3 separate regions of the Homo sapiens genome follow, and all the other regions are reported to be linked to region 1. Evidence: microRNA targets listed by miRTarBase, many of them from high-throughput screens and not tested one by one. Region 1 holds a microRNA gene; each other region holds the end of a gene's coding sequence.

Region 1 (7,200 bases):
TGCCCAGCAGAAAAGGTGGCTAAGCCCCAGAGAGATATGACATATATGATTTTAACTTCATCTCCTTGAAAATTAAAATAGTAACAATGTTTAGTTTATCCTTTTGTTACCAATTCCTTGCAGCTGTAGGTCCGAGAAATGGCCAACTTCAGCAGTAACAATTACCATATTAAATGTTGCTCTGTGTGAAGGGATCTGGACAAGTCACTCTACCTGCATAAATAAAATATACCCAGACTCTACCTTTGTGGCACTTTCATTATATTCGATGACCTCTGTCCCATCACCTGCTTCAGGTTAGGATAAAAGGTATAAACAAGCTGCCACCTGGTGAGATGGCAGGCTTCCCTACAAAAAACAAGAAAGTAATATTCTGCCATTTCCTAAGAACAAGCAGCAATGTCCTGGCTTCAAATGGTCTCTAGAAGTCCATGCACCACCGTGCTTCCACTGGGGCGGTTGTATCACCCAGGAGCATTAGGAATTGTATGGAGGTGGGGTGGGGCACTTTCTGCTTGTCACAGCGATCCGTGGAACAGGACTCTGCTCCAAAGAGAAGTCCAGCCCCATGCGTCAACAGCGCCCCCACTGGTCCACATGGAAGGAACTCCTTAAGTAGCGACACTGTCCTATCAATCTTTATAAAGGAGTCCCTCATTCTTTAGCAGCTGACAGAATGTCTGTAGGTCATTAGACAATGAAAAAAGAAAGAAGAGAGGGAAGGAGTAAAACAAGCAGAGAATAGGGATTATGGACAGTCAAAATCCCAGTTCTGCTACCTGCAAGCAGTGTTGTCCTGGCCAAATGGCTTAACCTCTTTGAAAATATTCATTACTTTTCCCTTTTCTTCCCCATAATCTTGCCAGTTCTGTCTGTATTCAGATGTCTCCTAACTCCAAAGTCTGGCTCTTTTCACACCATAGGAAGTGAGCTGGTAACATGAATGAAGATGAAAGACTAATTGTTTCCTCAGTCTCCATTACTGCACAATTTACAGCACAATTGTACTGTTATCAAGTGAACTTTGGAAACCTGTAGCACAGAGCAAGAGCCGCATACTCCCGGGGACCCAGACTTCCAAGAGTCCTGCAGAGGCAGAAGGGAGGGAGATGAATGAGCTTCTATCTAGGCGAGTCATGTCTACCCGCATCTCTCTGAGGAGGAAAGACTTTACTTCTCAGGATCAACGAGAAGAGATATGAGCTTCCCCCAACTTTTCTTAAGATACATTCCCCCTCCTTCCTGATCCTCCCACCAAGGGTGGCCCCTGGATCACAGTTTGGAAGTCACTGCCCTAAGGATTTCACCAAACAGGCAGTGTGGTAAAGAAGTTTCTAACAGAGGGTGAAGTGCTGTCTCTGGAGGATAAGATACAACCTGCACCCACAGGATGATTCTCATTCTTGGTTCTGGTCTCTGCTTGGGAACCAGCAGGAGAAGAACATGTGGGTTGGCGAGTGGGGGCACTGCAGCTGACACAAAGTAAACCAGCCCTGTTCCAGTCCACTAGGGTTGATTTTTCTTTTTTTCATTGAGACATGATCTTACTCTGTTGCCTGGGCTGGAGTACAGTGGCATGATTATGGCTCACTGCACCTTCAAACTCCTGGGCTCAAGCTATTCTTCCACCTTAGCCTCCCAAATAGCTACAATTGCAGGTGTGCACCACTGGATCCAGCTAATTTTTTTAATTTTTTGAGGAGACAGTGTCTCAATATGTTGCCCAGGCTCATCTCAAACTCCTGGTCTCTAGTGATCCTCCCACCTTGACTTCCCAAAGTGTTGGGATTACTGGTGTGAGCCACTGCACCTGGCCTACGGTTGTTTTTTCTATGTGTATTTTAATTATGTCTCATTGAGAATCATCAAGAATAAAAATAACTTGAAAAATTGGCAAGTTTTCCTATTGCAAGTAAAAAACTCTCATTTTTTAAGGAAAATGAGAGTTTTTTACTTGCCAGAGGAAGTCACTACCAGGAATTTTAATGGTTAAAAAAATTATTTTCTTTTTGCGAAATATTCATGGTTCTTCAACACTCTCTAGACACAACAGCAAGGCTCCCTGGCCCCAGTACTGCAAAACAAACCAAAAAAAAAGTACAGGTCCTTAGTCAGCCCTCAAACACCTCAAGAAGAGGTATATAATTCCATCATGCATCATACCTCTGTGCCTGTTACCTTCACAAAAGGCAACAAAGAACTATAGTCATTCTTCCCTCTATTCTAGTCCCTCAGGCAGGGAATAGGTTGGGTTTTACATCCATGTGCAGTATTATAATTTTATGCGGAAGCAGAGCAGACAAGAGATTGTCAGGTCTGAAATAAAGCAAAATTCTATATGCCTTAACAGTGGGCCCCCTAAATACACAGTCAATATTGTCCTCATATTAAGGTCATTTCTTTCACACAGACATTGAAGGTACTAATCTACTCTGAATGTCAGCTACATTCTTGCAAAAAAAAAAAAAAAAAAAAAGGAAAGGACATTGAATGAGAAAATGCAAGAAGTGTATGTTGCATAGAGCCTAAATCTTAACTGAAGTCCTTCTGTTTTGAGGTACTTGAATCACATTATGTACACCATTCAATACGAAACTCCTAAGTAAAATAACAGGATACCATTTTCAAAATCTTAAAGCAACAAACTACTGATGACTAGAATTAGAAAAGCATGCTTCCAGAAAGGTGACTAAATACACCCCCCCAACACAAAGGGGCAACGGTCAAAGACAAGACTGGAATTGGGCCTTGCGAGCTCTGCCTGGCAACCTTGGCTGTGGAGGCCACAGTGGACAGAGTTACCCACTCTCTTCTGGGCTTGTTCCCACCATCTGTGGGGTGGGTGTATAGGGCTGGGGCTAAGCCAGCTTCAGAAGCCCCCCAACCACCACCACACCATCAAGTCTCTCAAGTGGGACTGCTGTGCTGTGGCACGCACACCCACACACAAGTTGCCAACAGTTTGGAAGTTAGCCCCAGTTTCCAAATATGTCAACCCAAAAGCCATTCAGGTAAATATAAGTGGGAGCCACTACAAAGTGGGACTTTATCAGGCAGATACAGAGAACCAAAAAATGAAGTTGCTGAAAGCTGCTGTGGAGATTTAAGTCTTTTGTTTTTAACGGAGGAAGATAATGAGGCCCAGGAACACAGCTTCCTAGAGTAAGACAGTGTTCCGTCCTGGCCTCCAGGATGTTCAACACCTATCCCAAGCTTCTGAGCATTCTGTCCTCACTGGCTTCTCTCAGTGCTATTTCCAAATAATCTAGATTGCAAGTTATCACAGGCCACATTCCTGAAAAAACACAGAGCAATCCTGCTGACCCACTTCAGGGAAGCCCTTTCATAACAAAGTTACCCAAATCTTCTGGAGGGGTTTAATGAGCCCAGGTTATATATATTTAGTGAGTTTCAAACACTCGCCAGGCACTTTGAAACACAGTTCCTGAATGTAGGTGTTAACTGTAAGGCTGTGAAGGGCAATGATCAAAGACAAAAGCACTTGCTTTCATGATTTAAATAAGACATCCTAACCAGATTTTCTAAATCACTATATACTTCAATGGATACCAAGCACTGAGGTGGGTCCCCTAGGGCAGGGGTCCCCACCTGCTGGCTGCGGAGGGGTCAGTGGCCCATTAGGAACCAGGCCGCACAGCAGGAGGTGAGCAGTAGGCGAGCATTCCCGCCTGAGCTCCACCTCCTGTCAGATTAGCAGCAGCATTAGTTTATCAGAGAAGCCGGAACCCTGTTGTAAACTGAGTATGCAAGGGATGTAGGTTGCCAGCTCCTTAGGACAATCTAATGCCTGATGATCTGAGGTGGAACAGTTTCATCCTGAAACCATCCTCTACCTCCTTCTATGGAAAAACTGTCTTCCACAAAACTAGTCCCTGGTGCTAAAAAGGTTGTGGACTGCTGCCCTAGGGCACTGGCTCTCAAACCTGACTGCTCGTTAGAATCCCCTCAGAATCTTTAAAAAATAGTGATGCCTGGGCCCCACCCCCAGAGATTTTGATTTCATGAGGGATATGGCCTGGGCATTAGTTTTTTAAATACTGATGGTGAGTCTAATATACAACAGTTTGAGAACCACTGCTGTAAGAAACAAACAGAAACATAAAAAGTGGAAACAACTCAAATGATCATCAACTGGATAAATAAAATGTGGTATAGCCATACAATGGAATAGTATGCAGCCATAAAAAGGAATGACGCTATTGATATACGTTGCAACATTTTTAAACCTTGAAAACATATTGCTGTGAAAGAAGCCAGCAACAGAAGGATAAATACTGTATGATTCCATTTACATGCTATTCCATTTACATGATATGTCCAGAATAGGCAAATCCATAGGTACAGAAAATAACTGAGTAGTTACCAGGGGCCAGGAGAGTTGAGGGGAAATGGGAAGTGACTGCTAATGGATATGGGGTTTCTTTTGAGGGTGTTGAAAATTGATTACAGTGATGGTTGCATAACTCTATGAATAAACTACTAAATTCATAGGGTTGCATAACCCTGAATTAGATTAAATGGGTAAATTGTAAGGTACGTAAATTGTATCTTACTTTAAAATACATATATATCTATAAATTCTATCTACTATAGAGGAAAAAAAAACAGATACATAAGTAAGACAAGTATCAACAGAGATTTAAAATGCCATTAGAGAGGATCACCTAAGTAATACAGAAGGTAAACACTATAAACTCAGAGGAGGCATCAAAGCCTAAGTGATCCATATTTTTCTTTTCTTACTCATTTTTCTTCTCTGATTTGAAAAAGCAATAGAGTTCAGAGCTTGTCAGTGTACAGCTGATAATACAGGCCCTAAAGTCTCAGTTCTCACCTTATTTGGAATGGCTATTTAGCATTGTCTTAGAATTAAAAACAAATATTCAGAATACAGGCTGTTGATGGACTGTAATGACTCTCAAGAGTCAATTATCAACAGAGCCTTTGAAAGATGGACTTGGAGGTCAGGCGCAGTGGCTCACGCCTATAATCCCAGCACTTTCGGAGACCAAGGTGGGCACATCACCTGAGGTCGGGATCAGCCTGGCCAACATAGTGAAACTCCATCTCTACTAAAAATACAAAAATTAACCGGGCGTGGCGGCACACACTTGTAATCCCAGCTACTTGGGAGGCTGAGGCAGGAGAATCGCTTGAACTCGGGAGGTGGAGGGTGCAGTGAGCCCAGACTGTACCAATGCACTCCAGCCTGGGTGACCGACTGAGACTCTGTCTCAAAAAAAAAAGACGAACTTGGTGCTGTAAGTCCTACTTATGCCCTGGACTTGTCTTTACTAGTACCAGCAGTTTGGACCAAATAAACTTACATGCTCAAATACACAAAAAGACTTTTAAATACCAGGATTTGCAACACACAGGTATTATAGTACATATGCCGTAAAAACGAATGATTAAACGTGCCTCCCCTACTCAAAGTTCTTAATATACTTAATAATCATAGTTAAGAGTTATTTATTATGGCAGAAACTGACACACAGAAGGCTCAAACTTTAGGTAGCACAGGATTTTGTTTAACAGTCTTGTTTTCATGTCTAGGGTATAGTCTGGTACAAGAAATCCATCTAGGCCAGGCGCGGTGGCTTAAGCTTGTAATCCCAGCACTTTGGGAGGCTGAGGCAGGCGGATCATGAGGTCAGGAGATCGAGATCATCCTGGCTAACACAGTGAAACCCCATCTCTACTAAAAATACAAAAAATTAGCCAGGCGTGGTGGCGGGTGCCTGTAGTACCAGCTACTCGGGAGGCTGGGGCAGGAGAATGGCGTGAACCCGGGAGGTGGAGCTTGCAGTGAGCGGAGATCATGCCACTGCACTCCAGCCTGGGCGACAGAGCAAGACTGCGTCTCAAAAAAAAAAGCCATCTGTATTTCTCCAAGTTTCTGAATGTTAATATTTAATATTATACACTTGAACATATTTTTGCTTTCATTTACAGAAAACATACCATTAGCAATTGAATAAATCTTGGCCTATACCTTAAAGCCCTTTTAATAAATGTTTGTTGGCGCTTATTTAAAAGCAGGTAGCAGTGAAATTTCAATAGCTCCTAGAAATTAGATGATCAAAGAATAAACTCTATTCTCTATTTGTGGCAAACTTATAATGAATATACATTTCTACAGTCAGAGATGAAGACAAGCAGGTTAAAAATGACATCTAGTAAACTTGTCCTCCTCTACCCTGCTGTGCAACATATTTCAGTCAACTTTCAGAAAGTGGCTGGACCAAGCATTTAAATGCCCTGAGGTTGACCTGGACCAACTTTTAGGCAAATCATCCATCAGATCCTATAAGTCCTGCAGCACACTTAATTCAGACAAATAAGACAATAATTCCAAAAACAACTTAACAATAAGGACTAAGAAAGTGTTTAATTTTGAGATGTACTATTCTCAAAGACCCAAGTAAGCTTCAACTAGATAAGAGTTGAGCCCTTATGCTTGCTATAGTTCAGAAGTGCCAAAACATGAGATTAGGGTTGAATTTGCGCCATCAGCTTTCTGCTAGCTGTTTTCAACTCAAATTTTCCCCATTCTGCTCTCTTTCCTTCAGCCTGGTTTAACCCTGTCTGTCACACTCTTCACCATATTCTTACTACCAAACTTATTTTTGAGCACTACTTCAAAACAAAAAGAGCCAATGGAACAGAAGAAATGTACCAAGTAGCAAGGCAAACAAAGGCAAAGACTCCAGTAGCTAAGAGATTTAATTAAGAAAAAAGGCAGTTTCTGAAAAATGTGAGGCAGAATCTTGGACATTGCCAAACATCAGAAATTTTTAAAACTATTATTATATTAAGAAACAGACTGGCGCAGTGGCTCACACCTGTAATCCCAACACTTTGGGAGGCCGAGGCGGGTGGATCACCTGAGGTCAGGAGTTCGAGACCAGCCCAGCCTGGCCAACATGGTAAAACCCCATCTCTACTAAAAATACAAAAATTAGCCGGGCAGTGGGTGCCTATAATCCCAGCTACTCGGGAGGCTGAAGCAGGAGAATCACTTGAACCCGGGAAGTAGAGGCTGCAGTGAGCCAAGATCAGGCCACTGCATTCCAGCCTGGGCAACAGAACAAGACTTCATCTCAAAAAAAAAAAAAAACAAAAAACAAAAAACAGTCCTGCCTTTCTAAATTGAATCCACCGAGGCCTCTGTGTCTT
Region 2 (7,200 bases), not on the chromosome of region 1:
TTTAAATCCTAACTCCCAAGAAGATATTAGGAGGTGGAACCTATGGGACGTGATCAGATCAAGAGGGCAATGCCCTCATGAATAGGATTAATGCTCTCTTATAAGTGGCCTGAGGGAGCTCCTTTGCCTCTTTAGTTATGTGAGGACACAGCCAGAAGGACCATGTATGACTTAGAAAGCGGGACCTCACCAGACACTGAATCTGCTGGCACCCGATCTGGGGCTTATGTGCCAGCAATTTCACTCCTAAGTAAATACCCAGGAGAACTGAAAGATATCCACACAAAAACTTGTTCTAAAAAAGTTCATAGCAGCATTAGTCATAATAGTCAAAAAGTGGAGAAGACCCAATGTCCATCAGCTGATGAGTGGATAAACAAAATGTGGTCTAGCCATATAATGCAATATTATTTAGTAATGTGAATGAACAAAATATTGATTCATGTTATAACATAGATGAACTCTGAAGACATTATGTCCAATGAAAGAAGCCAGACACAAGATACCATATATGGTATGATTCCATTTATATCAAATGTGCAGAATAGGCAAGTCCATAGAGACAGAAAGTAAATTAGTTGTCTCCAAGGCTGGGGAGATGTAGTTGGGAATGGGGAGTGACTGTCAATATGTAGGGTTTTTTTTTTCTTACTTTTTTAGAGACAGCGTCTTGTTATGTTTCCCAGAATGGAGTACAGTGGCTATTCACAGGCATGATCATAGCACACTGCAGCCTTAAATTCTTGGGCTCAAGTGATCCTCCCGCCTCAGCCCCCTGGGTAGTTGAGACTACAGGCATGCACCACCACACCCAGCTCATGTAGGGGATTTCTTTTGGGAGCAGATGAAAGAGTTCTAGGATTAGATAGTGGTAATCATTACATAATATTGTGGATCTTTTCAAAGATAGAAAAATGTTATGTGACAATATCCCCTAAAGCGTTAAAATGTAGCTAAACTCAAAGCTAAGACAGGGAAATCCCAACGGCCAAAGATGAACAGGCAAGTTAGGCCCACAGATGAAAAAACTGAATGATCCCACAAGGGCTGGGCATACTAGGTAAGAGCTAAGGAATTAATCTTGTGTGTGAATGGGAGTTAGAGTAGCCATGCATTTTGGGAGACATGAACTATACAATATTACAAATGAAACAGTTCTCTCCTCTTGACTGTGAACAAACAACAACCAACCAAAAACAAAGCCAGATAGCTCCCAGCTTCTACAGCTGTCTTGTGACTAACCTGAAAACTCTGGTCATGAGGAGGGTAGATGTAGACTGTACCTACAGTCTTATCAGTTATGGGGCAGAGGGGCAAGAAATTATTTGGTTTAGTCTACTGGTTTTGGTTACAAATTACCTTGAAGGAAGATGACCTAATGTGGTATCTGGTGATACAAAGAAAGAAAAAGAAAGAAAAGAATATAGGTACTGGATTTCTGAAGCCCTTTGTTCAGAAAAGAGTTAACATAGGCCTGAGACTGTTGTACTTAAAAGGCCTGCTTGCAACATGCTATAGTTTGATGGTGTTCCCTTGTTAAAACTTAATCCCTTCTTGCTTTTTCATCACTTCCACCATATGAGGACATAGCATCTGTCTCCTCCAGAGGATGCAGCAACTGGATGCCATATTGGAAGCAGACAGCAGCAGCCCTCACCAGATGTTAAACCTGCCAGCATCTTGACCTTGGACTTCCCAGCCTCAAGCACTATGACAGATAAATTTATATTGTTTATAAATTACCTAATCTGTGGTATTCTGTTATAGCAGCGCAAGATATAAGGTTAGCCCTTGACTGGTATCTGGGAACTTGAATTTCAGGAGGATTTCCACAATTCTCTGATGAGAGTGGCTCACCATGCCCCGGCTATTTGTATAATGTGATTTATGCTGAATTCCTTCTGGGAATCTAGAATTTTGGCCCAAGCTGGCCTATGTGACCAGTTCCAAAACAAAACACAACGTAGTGCCTAGGGCACTAAGTCTCCATTGAGCTTACTGGGTAGACATTTCACATGTTTCAATGCTGAAAAAACAGTACATCATGAATGATTCTACAGGGAGTGGATTATTGGAAGCCTGTACCTGATTTCTTCTGGACTTCATCCCATGCACATTTTCCCTTTGCTCAACTGACTTGGTATCTTTTACTACAATAAATCATAGTGACTATGATAACATAGGGTGTCTTGAGTCCTCCTAGTGAATTACAAGAATGTGAAGGTGGTATTATCAATCCCCAGCATACCATGCACATTGAGGTAGCATGGACCTTAATGAGTAGCAAGCATCCAGTGAAGGTATACTGAAGAAAATCAATAGTGGAAAAAAGTCTCCCCAGTTAGATATAATTTATTGAGTAAAGCCCTTTAATCCAGCAGTTCACAACCTTTTTGGCACAGGGGACCAGCTTTGCAGAAGACAATATTTTTCCACAAGGTGAGGTGGGGGGATGGGGATGGTTTGGGGATGATTCAAGCACATTACATTTATCATTTTATTTTCACAAGGAGCGAGCAACTTAGATCCTTTCTTTAAAAAAAAAAAAAGAGTTTCGCTCTTGTTGCCCAGGCTGGAGTGCAATGGCGCAACCTCGGCTCACTGCAACTTCTATCTCCTGCGTTCAAGTGATTCTCCTGCCTCAGTCTCCCAAGTAGCTGGGATTACAGGCACCTGCCACCATGCCTGGCTAATTTTTGTATTTTTAGTACAGATGGGGTTTCACTATATTGGCCAGGCTGGTTTCCAACTCGTGACCTCAGGTGATCCGCCCACCTCAGCCTCCCAAAGTGCTGAGATTAAAGGCATGAGCCACTGCGCCTGGCTGCAACCTAGATCCTTCACATGCGTAGTTCACAATAGGGTTCATGCCACTGATCTGACAGAAGGCAGAACTCAGCTTTGCTCACTTGCCCACTGCTCACCTCTTGCTGTCTGGCCCTGTTCCTAACAGGGTCTGTGGCCTAGGGGTTAGGGACCCATGCTTTAATCAACTACACTGAAAATATCACCATCATGTCCAAGGAATATGGAATGTCATTCAAACCCACTCTTTGTCCTTACTGGTTCCACATCCAGTAAGTGGATTGCACTATATTCTGCTCTTATGCACACTTTTTCCTCAGTGAACCTTTTTAAACATACCTCCCTAACATATGTATACCACTTTGTTTTCATTTCCAGGATTCTCTCTGTGTTACAGATTAATGCTTTAAAAAATGTAGCAAGCAAGGCCGGGCACAGTGGATCATGCCTGTAATCCCAGCACTTTGAGAGGCCGAGGCGGGCAGATCACTTGAGGTCAGGAGCTCGAGACCAGCCTGGCCAACATGGTGAAACCTCGTCTGTACTAAAAATACAAAATTTAGGCCAGGCACGGTGGTTCACACCTGTAATCCCAGCACTTTGGGAGGCCGAGGGCGGATCACAAGGTCAAGAGATCGAGACCATCCTGGCCAACATGGTGAAACCCCGTCTCTACTGAAAATACAAAAATTAGCTGGGCGTGGTGGTGCACACCTGTAGTCCCAGCTACTCAGCAGGCTGAGGCAGGAGAATTGCTTGAACTTGGGAGGCAGAGGTTGCAGTGAGCTGAGATTGCGCCACTGCACTCCAGCCTGGCAACAGAGTGAGATTCCGTCTCGGGGAAAAAAAAAAAAAAAAAACTGAGTTGGACATAGTGGCACGCCCCTGTAATCCCAGCTACTCAGGAGGCTGAGGCAGGATAATCATTTGAATTCGCGAGGCGGAGGTTGCAGTGATTCAAGATTGCACCACTGCACTCCAGCCTGGGCAACAGAGAAAGACTCCATCTCAAAAAAAAAAAAGAAGTGTAGCAGACATTAATTGCAAAGATACAATTGTTCACACTCATCCATTTATCCACATATTCAGAGAATTTTTTTGTTTTTAAAATTGGCTTCCAGAATCTATTAATTATGATCTTATGTGCCATATAACAATATAGAACAATCATATTTTGAAGGGATTATCATATAGCACTTTTTAAAATTCTAATGTACATAATTTACTGCTTTGGTAATACTGATGTTCAATAAGAAATTAAAATGTAATTTATGGAATTATAAAATGGAAAAATACCACAAAATGCTCATTGCAAGAGAAAATTGCTAAAAAAAAAAAAGTATCCTTTACATATTATCTTATGCATGTACATACACACTCACTCATAAAAATGTATAGATTTCATTATGCTACAAAGGCAATAGTCTATGATCTTCCAAAGCCCATATTTTTTCTTTATCCTGTCATTACAGATACCTGCCGCCATTTTAATAGCTTCAGGTCAATACAGGAATGAAAATATCAAAAGTCAAATTATTATAGAGGAACACACACTTCCATTTAAAACAATTCATTGACATCACTGATATGTTACTTAGTCTTTTTGGTATTTTAATCTCATAATCATAAATTCCAATTATATAACTTCCAAATCAGAGATATACAGTGTAAATTCTGAAAAACACTCTTCCTTAAACCCATGTTTTACTGCCAGCAATAGGGAAAAGCATGGTAAATGCCAATCCTGCCCAAATAATAAATTTGATAAAATTATCAAATTTCCACAAGTTGTTTTTGGTATTCGCTTAATGGGTGTGGGGCAAAAATATGGTACAGCCCCTACCTCAGAAGTTTTTTTTTTTTTTTTTGAGACGGAGTCTTGCTCTGTCACCCAAGCTGGAGTGCAATGGCGCAGTCTCGGCTCACTGCAACTTCCGCCTCCCGGGTTCAAGCAATCCTCCTGCCTCAGCCTCCTGAGTAGCTGGGATTACAGGCGCCTGCCACCATGCCCAGCTAATTTTTGTATTTAGTAGAGATGGGGTTTCACCATGTTGGTCAGGCTGGTCTCTAAGTCCTGACCTCAGGTGATTCACCTGCCTTGGCCTCCTAAAGTGCTGGGGTTACAGGCATGAGCCACCACACCCAGCCAGAAGTTTTAATAAGAGAATGCTACAGTTATTAGACGGCAATCATGTCAAAGTCTGGATGGAAATGTGGAAAGTCAGAAATCAAATAAATTCAAGGGGGCTGATAAAAATTTGGCATTGGCAACTACTTCTGACACTTTAAAAGTGTTAGAGTAAACCCCTGCCTTAACATTAATGGATTAAAAACTCAATTGTGTGATATTCAGTAAACTCTTGTCAGGTTAATTAAATTTTTTTCAGTCTGCACTGTCAGAAAAATCACAAAATATACTTCAACTTGGCCGGGTGTGGTGGCTTACGCCTGTAATTTAACACTGGGAGGCCAAGGAGGTTGGATTGCTTGAGCTCAGGTGTTCAAGACCAGCCTGGGCAATGTGGTGAAACCCTTTCTCTACCAAACATACAAAAATTAGCTGGGTGTGGTGGCACGTGCCCGTGGTCCCAGCTACTCAGAGGGAGAGATGGGCAGATGGATGGAGCCTGGGAGGACGAGGCTGCAGTGAGCCATGATTATGCCACTGCACTCCAGCCTCGGTGACAGAGCGAGGTCCTGTCTCAAAAATAAAATTAAAAATAAAGGTACTTCAACTTATGTTTTATAAAACCTTTGGGAAACTAGACAGGCTCTCAATAAGAACCAAATTTGAGAGAAGAGACTACAGAGAGGACAGGTGTCAACTGTAAAAGAGTAATATCATATTAATATTGTAGGCTGCAGTATCCAGTGGTTTTCTGCATTTCAACAAATGTTCATTTCTGCAAATAATTTTATTTCGCAGGTTTCTTCCTTTGGATACAATGTTCAAATATTGTGCATTTACTCCTTTTGATTCAGTTAACAAACAAGTATTGAGCACACCTACAAGCACTAGTCAATGTTAAGGTTGTATAGATTCGGTAGCAAAGTTCCTGCCCCCATGGAGCTTACAGTCTAATGGACATCAATTCTGGCACCTTCATCAGTATACTTTTTTAAAGCCCAGGTCAAACTCATTTTCTAAGTCCTATTTCCTAGGTAACATGTCATAAATGTCAAAGTTTTGACAGAATGCTTTACTGTACCACTTAACAAGGGTTCTCAGCTGTGTGGTCACTGGACCACTGGGATATGCTGAGCTATTGCTTAAACACTGACTTAAATAAAACAAATATTTTAAATAAGAGAATGCTACTGTAATTAGAAGGCAATCATTTCAAAGTCTAGATGGAGGCCAGGGGCGGTGGCTCATGCCTGTAATCCCAGCACTTTGGGAGGCCGAGGTGGGTGGATCACATGAGGTCAGGAGTTTGAGACCAGCCTGGCCAGTATGGTGAAACTCCATCTCTACTAAAAATACAAAAATTAGCCAGGCGTGGTGGTGTGCACCTGTAATCCACTGAGGCAGGAGAATCACTTGAACCCGGGAAGTGGAGGTTACAGTGAGCTGAGATAGCACCACTGCATCCAGCATGGGCAACAGAGCGAGATTCTGTTTCAAAACAAAAAATAAAAAACAAAAAAAAGTCTAGGTGGAAATGTGGAGCGTTACAAATCAAATAAATTCAAAGAGGTTGATAAAGAAAATTTTTCCCTCCTATGAAATCTAATTACAAGCATTCAGGTTGTACATGAGTTCTGTTTTTTTTTTTTTAATCACCTTGTAGAACTTCCTCCCTCTGACAACTCTCTGATGTTCTTACTATTCTCATCATTTTCATAAAATGTACCAGCAGCATGAATTTTGTGATGACTTACAAGATTTGATCGCCAGCTGAACCTCTTACCACATATCTCACATTTGTAAGGTTTTTCCCCAGTGTGAACTCGCCTATGATACTGTAATTGTGAAGACCGACTGAAGACTTTACCACATACATCACATTTGTATGGTTTCTCTCCTGTGTGGACACTCTGATGAAGTTGGAGACTTGAGGCCTGACTGAAGTGCTTCCCACACTCCCCACATGTATAGGGTTTTTCTCCTGTGTGCACCCTCTGATGCATGTCAAGGTTCAAGCTCCACTTGAAGCCCTTTCCACACTCCCCACATTTGTATGGCTTTTCTCCAGTGTGGACTTTTTGATGGGCTTGAAGGTGTGCACTCCGACTGAAGCTCTTCCCACACTCTTCACATTTAAATGGTTTTTCCCCACTGTGAACTCTCTGATGGGTTAGAAGATGCGAGGCCTGACTGAAGACCTTCCCACACTCCTCACAATTATATGGTTTCTCCCCTGTGTGGATCCTACAATGAATTTTAAGATCTGC
Region 3 (7,200 bases), not on the chromosome of region 1:
GAGGTCAGGAGTTCAAGATCAGCCTGGCCAACATGGTGAAACCCTATCTCTACTAAAAATACAAAAATTAGCCGGGCATGGTGGTGTGTGCCTGTAATCCCAGCTGCTCCAGAGGCTGAGGCAGGAGAATTGCTTGAACCCGGGAGGCAGAGGTTGCAGTAATCTGAGATCGTGCCACTGCACTACAGCCTAGGTGACAGAGCAAGACTCCATCTCAAAAAAAAAAAAGAAAGAAATATATATGTTAGAAAAAGTCTAAAAAGGAAATTTACAAAGACTACAAGAAGATAGTTCCCTGGAAAAGACAGTGTGATGGTGTGCCAAAAACACCTTTCCTGATCATACACATATAAGTAAACACCCATACCGAGTTCCCCCTGACTCTAGTTAGGAGCTGTCTTTAACCACATTAGTCCCTATTCGGGATCATCAAATTTGGGAAATACCTGTTCCTAGCTTGTTATGAACATTTAAAAATCTTATTTTTTTCCCCTTCAAACTGTGCTTATAATAGATAGCAAAGTGGGGAATAAAAGTCTAACTACAAGCTTATTAATTTGAAGTAATAGGACTTACTGCTTTCAGTAATGTCACTGTCATCCATCAGACTATTTCACCTCAATTTCATTTTCTCCCTCAGGTGTTTCAAGAATAAGGGGTTGGTTCCCTAGAAAATGTGTGGAAAAGTGTCCCTGTGATGCTGAAACAGATCAAGCCCCAGAGGGGGAGAAGAAAAATAGATAGCTGCTGTTAAAACAAAATTATCCTTTAAGTCTGCTTAATTACTTGAAAATTGTACATATTACTAAAGAATTATGCAATGAGCCTACTCTGGTTAAGATGTTCTTTTCCTCAAAGGTGCCCTAGTGCCATGATTTAAATATTTTTATTACCATTTTGAAATGGAGAAGCCATTCTGCATATGCCTTTGAATTCCTGCCCCTCTTTACCACCTCTTCCTCCCCCTCAAAGGAAAAACATTTCATCCAAGTAAGTTAACGGCATTTTCTGTAGGATTTTCTTATGCACTGCACACTCTGGACCTCACCTGCAGATACAGTTCCCCCCTTGCCAGGAGCATCTGCATGTGGTACTTCTCTTTTCCCTCAGTTGATATTTCTTATATGATATTCTAGATACTATAGAACTCAATTTGTCAGATTCAGTATAACCTCAGATTTTGTTACCTGTCTTTTAAAAATGCAGATTTTGTCAAATCAAATAAAGATCAATGGATGTTGGGTATAATCAGTTTTTACTTAAAGCATTTTTCTTTTTGCTGACTAAAAAGGTTCATCTTAGTTCCTTATGGAAAAACTGCTCTGCTGCCCTGTGGACAACTGGCATCTTAAAACGTGGCTTAAGACATGACACACTTGCTTCAAGATATTAACCCTATTAATGGGATATTGCGGTCATAGTGATGGCAGCGGATGGCAGTGGTGGCCTGAGGGGTGTTGAGGGGGAGCCGTGATAGGCAGGAGCCAAGCGTAGCTACAGCTGTCCAGCCGTGGCTGCGGACCCGGGCATCCTTGTGCTCTAGGGGGCCGAGGGGAAATACCCCCCCCACACCCCCCCCCCAACAACTGCTTGGCCTCTTCCTGCTCCTGGCACTCGCTCTGGAGCAAAGGTGAGGCCAAGCCCGGGTGCTGTGAGGACCTGGCCAGGTGTACGTGAGCTCTGAGTGGTGCTGACACCAGCGCCCTGCCGCCTAGGCCCCCTCTGGACTTTGGGCTGCCAGCCACAGAGGATTCCAGCTGGGGAAGCAACACCCCAAGGATCCCGTGGCAGTAGTGTTCTAGACTTTAAACATAGTGATATCAAACTACTCATGTACCCTTGAGTAAAAAGCTGAAGCTTGTGTGAGTGGTAGGATCCAAGCTGGTGGGCTTGGATGCTTAAATTGGGCTTGTCTAAACATAACAGTGGAATCACAGAAGGAAAGAGAAAGCCTATTTCTCTGGACTTCAGAAACCTTTCCAAGGCAGGGAATGTGAAGCTTTGGGGGCCAGGCCTGTAATAGTTGAGGATAAGGGAAGAGCACTTGGGAATTCAGCAGTGAACAGACAGGTAAAATATATGTAAGATGGAGTCATGTTATTGTGAAGCAAGAAGGTAGGACAGTCTTGAGTTGGCATTTGAAGCAGATGAGGGGACAAGTCATGTGCTTTGGGATATTTGCATTTTAGAGACAGCAGCAAGAACAAAAACAGGCTGGACCTGTGTCTGACACGTTTGAGAAACAGGAAGGTAACTAGTGAGGTTCAGCTGTAATGCGTGAGGGGAGAATAGGAAAGGAAGTGAAGGCGAGAAAGTTAAAGTGATAATGGGAGCTAGACTTTAAAAGTTAATTCCTGCCTACCCTTTTGTTTCAGATCCTTAAGAATAGATATTTCTTTGGCTTTTCTGGGCTCAAAATCTAGAAAGACCATCCAAGAACATTCTCTTTAACTCCAGTTGGAGGCCAGAAAAGAATACTATTAATATTCAAGATTATAATTAGAGTACAACAAAGATGGTAAAAGAATGGATATGACTTGTGCTCAGTTGGAGTTTTGGCTCAGCTGGTATTTGTTTTATTCTTTACAGCTATGGGATAAGAAGGTTTGGTCTTCAGAACTTACTTTTCTTCACTAACCTGTTCGCAGACTAGAATCATCTGTGGGTCTTCTTAACAATCTCAGTGCCCAGGCTGTATCCGGCCATTTAAGCCAGAATCCCTGGAGTGGCAACCAGGCATTAGTGGTTTTTTTGTTTTGTTTTTGTTTTTTTTTTTTGAGACAGAGTCTCACACTTTCACCCAGGCTGGAATGCAGTGGTGCGATCTCGGCTCGCTGCAAGCTCCGCCTCTCGGGTTCATGCCATTCTCCTGCCTCAATCTTCTGAGTAGCTGGGACTACAGGTGCCCGCCACCACGCCCAGCTAGTTTTTTGTATTTTTAGTAGAGATGGGGTTTCACCATAGTAGCCAGGATGTTCTCGGTCTCCTGACCTCATGATCCGTCCGCCTCGGCCTCCCAAAGTGCTGGGCATTAGTGTCTTTTTAAACTTCCTAGATAATTCTATTGTGTACCCAAGTTTAAGAACAGATACTGTACTTGATTTTTAAGGGGTCCTTGTTTAAGACTGATTTTCATCATGGTCCATGAGGAAAGAAACACCACAACGTAAGTATCTGTAATAGTTTATTTTAAAGACTTTACATTTACAAGTAGAAACAACATGTGTTATCTGTGGGTAAGGTAGAGCAGGAACTCTAATCCAAGGGTGGGGGAGATCAGTTGGTTCCTTCACAGAAAATAAGCCTGTTGTGTGGGCATCTTGCTTGCCTGTAGATCTTTGTTCCCAGTTCAGGAGGTTTTTATTCAGTGCTTGCTTCATTTACTGGAAAAGTTCACTGGGCCCACCTGTCAACTCCTTCCCCCACAGCTTCCAGCTCAGCAGCAAACTGTAGGGAACAGATTTACTCCCCAGTTCCTACTGTAAATAATGCTTTAAGAACAGCATTCCTTTTGGACAATATGTCATAGACCCAATTTTTAATACTCCCAAGTCAGATATCTAACTAGAGAGTTTAGGAAATGTTTGGTATGATCAAACTTTTCCCTTCAGTACACAATTTAATTTACGCAGAAGAGCATCGGAGACATTTGTCTCATAGATATGATTGACATGAGTGATAGGCTAAAACTAAAATTTTAGTGGTTTGTGGAGTGGCTAGAAAACATGAATTGTAAGCAGTTTTTCAGAATTTAAAAATCTCTTAGTTTGAACAGTAGAAGATGTAAATAAGCATAGAGACTGTTGGCAAGTTATGTTTATCACAAAACAAAGAAGAAGGCACAGAGGGTCCCTTTGACCCTTGAACTTGTGGTTACTAATAGTATTAAGGTTGGAAATCATGAGGAAGGACACAGAACATAAACTGGGATCTTGAAGACAGGCATGTTGATAAAAGTAGCCCTGAAGCCTTAATATTAGCAACATCGAAGATGGGAAAGACAGGATTGATTTATTTGGGAACTAAGTTTACACATTATATGTCTCAATATAAAACAAAAGCTATGGCTTTAGAGTTTAACAGGTTAAAAAAAAATAGGAGGAAAGGCAAAACAAATGTAAGAATAGTTTTTAATCCATTTTCTCACAAGCAGTGCACAGTGGGCCGGCAGGTACTTAAGTACCTTATCCTAATCCTGGATGTGCTCATACAGGCTGTCAATTTGGGTCCGAAAGTATTTGGAAAGCTCTCCTCGCTTTGCTTTCAATGTTGGTGTCAAGAGCCCATTTTCAATGGAAAATGGCTCTGGATGAAGAAAAATGGCTTTGACCTGGAAGATGAACACACACACATCCATGCTCATTAGTGATTTGGACTTCTCTGCAGAGCCCCCTGAGTGCTCTGTGAAGAAAGTGAGGTTGATGCAGTGAAAGGGTAAAGGTAACAGTAACACATGCCCATTCCCACAAACATAATTTAAGAAAGTAATGAGTAGGGAGAAGGGAGAATGGACAATAAACAGCAAAAAAAGGGCGCTGTACAAGTAACTACAAAAGGTCATTTTGTAGTTAATGGCACAAAATCTAAAATCAATTCCTTAGAAATTATACATTTAAACCTCATTAGATGGAAACTTTAAACAAAACTTTCTGACAAGAGGCCAGTATAACATCAGTGGTAGCACACACCTGTTCAAAAGTTTTAAGGCCACTTTCTTTCCCAATTTTCTGCAAGTCTTCTAAAATGGCTTCCCTTACAACCTAAGAATACAAAACATCACTTAAAGCATGGCTGTTTCAAAAAGCCTGAAGGGCTAAGCATGAACCAACTCAAAGTGCCTGTCAAAGCCATGCAGTATGAAAGCAGGAATATAAAACTATGCACAAGCACATTATATGCCCAATATTGAAAGAAAAACTGAGAAGAAAAGGCACATCTAAGTGTTAACAGTTTTCTCTGAATAGCATTTTTACTCTTCTTTCCCAATCTTTTCCCACAATGAACATATTATTTTAAATAGAAAAGAGAGTTTTATTTTTTAAACTCTCCATCCTATCCCCGAGTCCCATAAAACTATTCAGTCTGTTTGGGCTGCAGCCACTTGTGACAGATGCAGGAACTGGTGAGGCATCCTCTCCTCCACGATGGGCCCATGGGTGTGCATAAAGCTTTCCTAGGCAAGACTTACTTGGTTTTGGCACAGTTCCTCAAAGGAGCCCTTCACCCCAAGCTTGGCTGCAAATGAGGGAAGTACATCTGTGTCAGGAACCACCACTCCTACTAAGGATGACTATGGAAAGGAAATAAAAGGTGCAAGGGCATGAGAGAAGTTATGTAGGGATGTCCCCCAGTAGTTAAATAAAGCAGAATTATGTCATTGTAATAGTTATTTCCCCAAAACCTTAAATCCAGTACTAGTGTTCTTTTCTCACCATATATTTTCAACACCATGGAACTGTAATCCCATTTTCCCACTCAATATCTCATTACAAAGATGTTCCATTCAAATCTGATCCTTCAACATTAAGCTTAAAGCGCCTCTGGCTTGTCCATGTCAACTCTCCCCTTGTCCCCTAAAAGCTACATTTAAGCACAGTGTGTATAAAACAGTTCGTTGTTTTGGGATAAGGAGTTCCTTAAAGCTACGTTTAAGCATAGTATGTATAAAACAACAGTTTGTTGATCAAACTTTTGTTTGTTGCTTTATATATATTGCAACAGTTTGTTGTTTTATACATACTGCTCTTAAACATAGCTTTAAGGAACTCCTTAAGGAATGGGAACTAAGTGCAATGTGGAGCTCATTTTTTACTGAATCATTACCTTTTAGTATAGCCATTCTAAACAATTCTACTGACTTGTGTACAACGTCCATCATAGTTTTGAAATTTTTTAAATTGAAATTGCCTTATTTGAGGTTTGGAATGTAACTTCATTTTTTTTTTTTTTTTTAGTTTTATAAGCTTGGATCTTCTCATTCTGAACCCAACTATACAAATTTCCTGTAGCTACAAGAACCAGCATGGTTTGTGACTGAAATGGGCTATTGTTAAAATGATATATTACCCGTAAGCTCTCCCCGTGTACAAAAATTTGTAACACTGGTTGACTCCTGTTGTAGATATTTTCTATCTTCTCTGGTGCAATGTATTCTCCTTGGGCCAGCTTGAAAATGTTCTTTTTACGGTCGATGATCTTCAGAGTTCCATTCTACATGAGACAGATAAAAGTATCAGTATTTTTGAGCCACAGAGATGATATCAGTGGGGAGAGTGGTGAAGTCACAGTCATCTTTCTTCTCTAAAGCTGATTTCTCCAGAGACTTTTGAGCTGTCTTTCATTTCTCTTTCTTGGCTTTGGTGAAAGGGGAGGGAAGCATCGTGCAGCAAGAACCTGTCTTTACTGTATATCTATGTGGAGAGTCAATGCGCAGCCTTAGAGAAAGTCTCCTGGATCTACTGGAGTTATGCAAATTGATGCCTCATCCAAGGAAGAAATTGCACAGCTCTCAATTTCCAATCACTAATTTCCAATTAGTTCATTTTCAGAACTCTCAGAAATAGAGGTGTTGTCTTTTGTTTAGACTTTTGATTTGATTTGAATAGTTCTCCCACCACTTGACTCCCTGTTATGTTTTCCTCCTTGTTAGATCCGGGAGCAGGCTCAAACAGCTCCACTGTGCTAATCAAGCAACTCAATTACTGGGCTTGTTAGGACAGCAACAGGGCTGAGAGGACTCTGACCAGCCACCAAAGGTCATTTGCAGCTTCATTTCTCTGAACTAATTGGTCTGAGGAGCTTAGGTCTTTAGGGATTTGAATTGTAGAATTGGGACAAATGGCAAATAAAATCCACATGCTAACACCCTAAGTAGGGCGACTAACTAAACCAACACTGGAACTATCACAAGGCCGACTTGATAAATTAGCCATCAATTCAGCCTAACGTTCATTATCTGAAAGTGATTAATAAGGTGCAGCCTTCTATAACCCTGGTGTGGGGACATATCTGTTGCTTACATCCTAGGCTTATTAGAGTGTTATTTAATTCTGTTACTAGACAGAAACAAATATATTAGCAAGATACTACCAAACCCAAATCAATAAAATGCATCGTTAGGACCAGTGTTCTTAAAAGTTACATTGTCAAGCATTCCTTAAATCTCACTTAAATCTTAAATATTGATTGAGCAAGAAAGGA

The links. Region 1 holds the annotated microRNA hsa-miR-3128 (UCUGGCAAGUAAAAAACUCUCAU, at 1,940-1,962, opposite strand). A microRNA usually pairs through its seed, bases 2 to 8, with sites in the 3' UTR of a target mRNA and lowers its output. Matches are read on the target gene's strand: a 7mer-m8 pairs with bases 2 to 8, a 7mer-A1 pairs with bases 2 to 7 and ends in A, and an 8mer does both.
Region 2: miRTarBase lists ZNF234 as a target of hsa-miR-3128. Seed matches in the 3' UTR shown: 7mer-A1 at 5,899-5,905.
Region 3: miRTarBase lists ZDHHC6 as a target of hsa-miR-3128. Seed matches in the 3' UTR shown: 7mer-m8 at 1,069-1,075.

What each region holds. Positions count from the first base shown.
Region 1 is chr2:177,254,045-177,261,244 of GRCh38, forward strand. It overlaps MIR3128 (microRNA 3128), which reads right to left and starts at 1,966; the gene lies at 1,901-1,966. All of the region lies in intron 1 of NFE2L2 (NFE2 like bZIP transcription factor 2), which reads right to left. RefSeq lists a silencer at 2,957-3,251.
Region 2 is chr19:44,157,505-44,164,704 of GRCh38, reverse strand. ZNF234 (zinc finger protein 234) reads right to left here. Exons shown (of 6, transcript NM_006630.3): 6 at 4,392-7,200. The coding sequence ends at 6,586. Among named protein-coding and RNA genes, the nearest start is that of ZNF226, 4.0 kb to the left of the region's middle.
Region 3 is chr10:112,424,348-112,431,547 of GRCh38, reverse strand. ZDHHC6 (zDHHC palmitoyltransferase 6) reads left to right here. Exons shown (of 11, transcript NM_022494.3): 11 at 641-1,248. The coding sequence ends at 744. ACSL5 (acyl-CoA synthetase long chain family member 5) reads right to left here. Exons shown (of 21, transcript NM_203379.2): 18 at 6,067-6,210; 19 at 5,189-5,290; 20 at 4,689-4,760; 21 at 3,172-4,330. The coding sequence ends at 4,190. Among named protein-coding and RNA genes, the nearest start is that of ZDHHC6, 19 kb to the left of the region's middle.